Linked DNA regions of Homo sapiens. The protein of the gene in region 1 interacts with the protein of each later gene in a biochemical or structural test. Each region holds a gene or a part of one and is shown in the gene's direction. Other genes may lie near its edges.

Region 1 (3,500 bases):
TGAACCGGGGAGACGGAGGTTGCAGTGAGCTGAGATTGCACCACTGCACTCCAGCCTGGGTGACAGAGTGAGACTCCATCTCAAAAAAAACAAGTGGTCAAAATAAAATTTTCCTATCCTACACTTTAAATAAAATTTAAAACAAAGTATTTTCATGGTTATCTTAATGTCCTTTATTGCGATTTCATTATACAAAATGTATCGTGGAATAAATGGGTGTTCATGAAAATACATGCATTTATTGTAATGTGATTTATTCTGCTATCTTAGCTTGGTAATATGTTAAGCAGTCACCATGGAAAGTGGCGAAAGTTTCTGAGTATCCAGTAAACTTAAAATTTTTTAAAACAAAAAAAAAAAATTGGATTTCAAAATTTCTGCTGCTTGGCTCCTCTTTTTTTTGTTTAGATATGGTATTAAAGGTGGATATCCTAAACACAGTGTTTCCAAAGGAAGATGTATGTTATAGTTTTTGGTTTCCTACCCTGATTTAGCTTTTGTCTTGTTTATCAGGCACTGATACCTTTAGTTCTTCAAATAACCATGAGAAAATATCCTCTCCTAAAGTTGGTAGAATAACAAGGACTTCTAACAGAAGAAATGTAAGTGTTTGTGTTTGGCACAACGTATTTGTTTTTAAATCGTGCAATATACTTTTCTGTTTTCATGGCCAAATGATAATGGGTGAAATCTTAGTTTAATCAGTGTCATTAAGAATTAATACTTTGGCCAGGCACCGTGGTTCACGCCTGTAATCCCAATGCTTTGGGAGGCCGAGGCAGGCGGATCATGAGGTCAGGAGATTGAGACCATTCTGGCTAACACGGTAAAATCCCATCTCTACTAGAAATACCAAAAAAATTAGCCGGACGTGGTGGTGGACGCCTGTAGTCCCAGCTACTAGGGAGGCTGAGGCAGGAGAATGGCATGAACTCAGGAGGCGGAGCTTGCCGGGAGCCGAGATGGCGCCACTGCACTCCAGCCTGGGCGGAGTGAGACTCCGTCTCAAAAAAAAAACTAATACTTTATCCTACCTAGCATGTAACCTATAAGGTGATAGTGTGTTTCTGATTTGATTTTAATTCTATTAGAAGAAAAATCTAGAAAGATGCTTTCAGAGCTGTGTTAACATGGAAGTTAACAAAATTTGTTTGGGATCTATATGATTTTATGAATTTCGTTGAGGTGAAAATGGAGAAGATCAGCATGTAATTAACAGAACCAGAAAATAATATAAGTATAATCTTTTTTAAATTGTGCTTCAGTCTGTTTTTTAACACTGGGTTTCAACTGGGAGTTATATATAAGCATAACTCCCATTGAATGCATGTCTTTTGCTATTTCGTTAAATTAGATAAAATTTGGATTTTTGTTTATAACATCATAAAGTATAAACATATACTGTTATGGGGTATTTAGCTTATAGGGTTGGATATTAAACCCAGGATTCAAACCTAGATAATCTAAAAATTCATGATTTTTTTCCCCATAACCCAGTAGTTAGGTGCTAAATTGTAGGTTCTTAATGAGTAGTTGATGAGTGAATAAATTAACGAATTCTTAAGCTGTTTTTTCTTTCTTCCCTAATATAATTGGGTAATATATGTATACTTCTGGGTCTGCATTTGATAGTTCAGAAATTGGTAATTACCATTTCCACCAATTTTCATCAAAGTGCTTTTAATAAGGTTTGTGAATTAAGAATAAATGGGATCTAAAGTGGTAGAAGCATCCTGGGAAGCACAACAAGAGTGAGAGCAGCACATTAACATGTAATTGCTTGTGCTTTACGGTATCCTACTTTACACTTTCTTTATAGCAATTGGTCAGTGTTGTAGAAGAGAGTGTTTGCAACTTATTGAATACAGAAGTTCAGCCTTGTAAAGAAAAGAAAATTAATAGGAGGAAGTCTCAAGAAACAAAGTGTACAAAGAGAGCACTTCCTAAGAAGAGTCAGGTAAGCATGTGTTTAAAGATATAATAAAGAGTAGAAGTGGTGTGTTTCCTTATTGTATAATTAGGAAAATATAGAAACACATTTTTTTCCAGTTGACTTTGGACCAAGATTATTAATGCAATCTTACCGTGGAGTAGAATGGGGTGGGGGGGTTATGTACTTAACTCTGAATTGCCTAAGGAACACTTTTGCGTCTTCTTCATCTTCTTGTGTTGCGTACTTCCTGCACAGTAAATTAATAGGCACTCAAACCTGAAATTCTCATTCTCATCTTTGAATCTACCCCAACATATTACCCTATTGGGAATCCTGATTTTTTTAGGCAGGGATGAGTGTGCCGCTTGCTACTTCTTAGATTCTCTTCTTCCAGTTGCTGAATCAAATTTTTCCCTAAATTTAAGGGAAAGTTTAGAAACTAGCTCTCAGTCTTTCTTAACACTTCTGGTCGTCTCAGATACCCTTACAGTCCATGTGGTTAGCCAATTTAACACCTTAACCCAGTTCCTTTTCCTTCTCCAGCTCAGTGATCTGGACTCCACACTCCAAAGCCACCTACTCACTCTTGCTGCCATTCTTACAACTTGTTACTGCCCGTGTAGCAGTGCTCATTCTCTGACCCCCAACTTCCTGTCCATCCAGCCTATTCACTCTCTTACTCTGCAGTTCCTTCTGTACTGCTAAGCTTTCAGATACACCTGAAGTTCATGTTTCCCTCTTCATCCTGAACTGAGTGAACTGTTTCCAACTCTTGTCAGGAATCTCAATTCCGGATCCTTTTCCTTCCACCTCATCCATCCAGCAAAATTTCCAGTCTGACTGAGTTATCCTCTCTTCCATCTGACATAGCCCCTAGAGACACTCACACAGGAGTTGGGGATAGTACTACTACACATTCACTGACATCTGGCCTTCTTCTTCACCACTTTGCCGCTTCACTTCATTTTTAATACTAAAGCCAGTGCATACTTTTCAGTTCTGTTCTTAATGGACATCTTAGCATTTGACATGATGGAACACTCCTGTACAGTCTCTAAGGTTTGTTTTCTGTCCCCCATTGTTAAATGTTTGTGTTTTCCAGAATTCTCTTCTTTGCCCTTGTAAATTGTTTATCTTCTGGGTAATTTCATACACAGCATGGTTAATGACCATATATGAAGACCAGAACTTCCTGATCTGTAAATCTGTGTTCAACTACGTACTAGACATCTGTCTTTAACCATGCTATGTCAAAATCAGCATTTCTAAAACTAAACTTATCAACCTATACACCCACCCAAAACATTCCGTAAACTTCCTTCCCCCTCTATGAAATAAAAATGACTGCTTTTCTTGGTTGAGTAGCACAGATATCCTTAAGTCATTAAATCCGGAAGGAACTAGGTGTTTTCCTGCTTTAGTTCCTTTTTAGGTCACACACTCTTGATAAAATGATGAAAGATTATCTTGCTGAAAAAATACCATTAATTCAAAAATATACATACAACTTATTACATTAGAAATTGATTTCCTTCGTGTGTGTGTGTATATATATTTTAAAGCACTC
Region 2 (3,500 bases), on another chromosome or scaffold:
AGCAAAAGGCTACACCATACAGCCTAGGTGTGTAGTAGGCCATACCATCTAGGTTTAAGTACACCCTGTGACATTTAAATGATGAAGTTGCCTAATGACACATTTCTTAGAACGTATCCCCATCATTAAATGACATATAACTGTATTTGTAGTCTTCTATGATCTTCAGTAAAGTTTTATGCTTTTCTCCATATGTCTTAAGTATTTCTTGCAAATTTATTCTTTATGCACATTATAGTTGTTGTTGTGAAAAGTACCTTTTTATTATTCATCTGATTTTTACTGATGTTTTATAAAGGTATTGATTTTTATATATGTATTTTTTAATGTGGCCACATACTGAATTTTCCTACTCACTCTAGTAACTTGCAGGGTTTTTTTTTAAGTTTTAAGGGATATATAAATATACAGTTACACAAATAAGTGTAATTCTGGTATTCCTTTCCAACATTATTCATCACATTGTTATCTTACTGGATTGTCTCCAAAACAGTATCCTTCCCAATTTTAATTTGAATTAGTGTTCCACATTACTGGACCAGACAGACTATAAAGTAACCTAAAAAGCTGTCAAAGATCTATTTCCACAAAACCACCAGGCCTAGATGGTTTTACAGCCTGTCTCTAATAAATCATTATGTAGAATGATTGCTGGTGGTTTCTGATAAATTCTTTTAGTTCTAGCTTACTAAATTTTTTTATCAGAATATATAGTCAATTAAAAATGTCAAATGACTTGAAAATCTTTTAAAATGATCTGGGTTTTTTTTTTTTATTTCCCCTTTTAACCTATGAATGGAACCATCCTGGCATTTCTGGAATAAGTTACAATTAGGCATATAGCATTCTTCTATTGTGATTCAGTTTAATGCAAGTGTTTTCAACTTTGTTTATTTAAATAAATAGTCTCCACTTTGGGAGGCCGAGGCTGGTGGATCACAAGGTCAGGAGCTTAAGACCAGCCTGGCCAAGATGGTGAAACCTGTCTCTACTAAAAATACAAAAATTAGCTGGGTGTGGTGGTGGGCGCCTATAATCCCAGCTACTCGAGAGGCTGAGGCAGAGAATTGCTTGAACTTGGGAGGCCGAGGTTGCAGTGAGTCAAGATCACACCACTGCACTCCAACCTGGGCGACAAAGTGAGACTCCATCTCAAAATAAATAAATAAATAAAAATAGTCTCTTTTGTTTCATTGTATTCTGGTTATAAAGATTGTGCTAGCCATGAAATAGACTGAGAAGCTGTCCAGGGTTTTTTTTTGTGTTTCATAATGGTTTAAATAACAGGAATCATCTGTTCCTTAAGGTTTCTCCCTAAAATAACCTCCCTCTCTCACCCCACCAACTTATATTTTCCTTTATTTTCTTAGAAGTAGCACATACTATTAAATTGTTTTATTTATGTGTTTAATTGATCACTTGCATTGGTCTTCCTCCATTAGAACGTAAGCTCTGTGAAAACCAGAGACCTCATCTGTCTTGTACATCAGTGTGTCCCTAGCATCTAGAACAGTATCTGGTACATAATAGGCACCCAGTAAATGTTAGTTGAATTAATAAAATTCTAAAGCTGAGCAGAAAGTCTATTTATACACATATATTAAGCAATATTGATTTACTTCAGAATGAGTGTTGATATAATCACAGCTATGGAAAATACGCTGGGATTAACTAGCTTTGTTATTAAATTCATGCTAAACTTTTTCTTTTTCGCAGGTGATCAGAGGACTGCTGAAATTTTGGCCAAAAACCTGCAGTCAGAAAGAGGTGGGTTTTGTTCACTAAATGTAGTGCATTTTACTAGAACTTGTCAATCCCAGGGCTATAAACCATGCTTCTTTGGGCTGGCTGTATTGCTGTTGCTAAAGAGCGGGAGATGTACACAGACTTGGTAGAAGACCTGTGCTATAGTAAACTCTGCCATCCAGACATTTTTTTGCTTATTGTATACTATGCAGATTAACCTTCTCATTTGTATGGTTTCTATATTAGTTTCACATAATTTATCATGTTTCTTAAAATAAAATTTTTTTAACCTAGGTGATGTTTTTAGGAGAAATTGAAGAAATCTTAGATGTCATTGAACCAACACAGTTCAAAAAAATTGAAGAGCCACTTTTCAAGCAGATATCCAAGTGTGTATCCAGTTCTCATTTTCAGGTATGATGTTTTCAGTGAAGCCTTTACTTTACACTAGTATTTCTTTCCTATTTTAGTTTTGACATTTCTCTAAATGTCTTTTTTTAGGTTGCAGAAAGGGCATTGTACTTCTGGAATAACGAATATATTCTTAGTTTGATTGAGGAGAACATTGATAAAATTCTGCCAATTATGTTTGCCAGTTTGTACAAAATTTCCAAAGAACACTGGAATCCGTAAGTATCTTTTATATAGGTCGTATTTTTTTCTTTTTTTTTTTTTATATCTTTTTGTTATTGATTTCCTAACTCATACTTGAAACCTATTACAGATTTGGAAGTTACTCCAAGGTTAACATCAGTTGTATTCTATTCTGTATTTTATATACGTATACCTTTATCAAGTTATAAATGTGTGTGTTTGTTCAGTATGTGGTCTTAATGTCAATTTATTTTTAAAATTTTTTTAGAGACAGCCGGGCGCGGTGGCTCACGCCTGTAATCCCAGCACTTTGGGAGGCCGAGGCGGGCGGATCACAAGGTCAGGAGATTGAGACCATCCTGGCTAACACGGTGAAACCCCATCTCTACTAAAACTACAAAAAATTAGCCGGGCGTGGTGGCGGGCGCCTGTGGTCCCATCTACTCGGGAGGCTGAGGCAGGAGAATGGCATGAACCTGGGAGGCAGAGCTTGCAGTGAGCCAAGATTGTGCCACCGCACTCTAGCCTGGGCGACAGAGCAAGATTCCGTCTCCAAAAAAAAAAAAAAAGAGAGTCTTGCTCTGTTGCCCAGACTGGAGTGCAATGGTGCAATCATACCTCACCGTAGCCTCAAACTCCTGGGTTCACGCAATCCTCCTGCCTCAGCCTCCCGAGTAGCTACGACCACAGGTGTGCACCACCATACCCAGCGAATTTTTATTTTTATTTTTTTTGGACAGTTGAAGTCTCACTATATTGCCCAGGCTGGACTGAAACTCCTGGGCTCAAGTGATCATCTCACCTTGGCCTCCCAAAGTGCTGAGATTATAGGCATGTACCACTGTGCCCAGCCTTCATGTCAATTTAAAATTGCAAATCTCCCTGGAGGTTGTGGTCAAACCCTCTTGGGGAGACCAACTGAACATTTGCAGAGGATACACAAACTACTCCGTTAATGCAGAGTTGTGTTGGTCTACTCTCAGTGTATAGTCTCCCCTCTATAAATGGCACTGTCCCAGGGGAAAGCCGAAGTGCTAAGGGTAATATATTCTAACTTCTTTAACATCCTTATCCGGCTTTCTACTTTTCATAAGTTTTGGTAATTGGATCTTTTTCATCTTCTTTTAATGTTGTTACTCAGGATTTCAGACATGAGACTG

What was found.
Region 2: the proteins of CDCA2 (region 1) and PPP2R5A interact in a test that uses a peptide from one of them, tested with the Homo sapiens proteins (one large-scale study listed by BioGRID and IntAct).

What each region holds. Positions count from the first base shown.
Region 1 is NC_000008.11:25,486,733-25,490,232, forward strand, and holds part of CDCA2 (cell division cycle-associated protein 2), read left to right. Parts: intron 1-513; coding exon 514-602; intron 603-1,819; coding exon 1,820-1,957; intron 1,958-3,500. UniProt on the Homo sapiens protein: Regulator of chromosome structure during mitosis required for condensin-depleted chromosomes to retain their compact architecture through anaphase.
Region 2 is NC_000001.11:212,354,910-212,358,409, forward strand, and holds part of PPP2R5A (serine/threonine-protein phosphatase 2A 56 kDa regulatory subunit alpha isoform), read left to right. Parts: intron 1-1,716; coding exon 1,717-1,767; intron 1,768-2,040; coding exon 2,041-2,160; intron 2,161-2,247; coding exon 2,248-2,375; intron 2,376-3,500. UniProt on the Homo sapiens protein: The B regulatory subunit might modulate substrate selectivity and catalytic activity, and might also direct the localization of the catalytic enzyme to a particular subcellular compartment.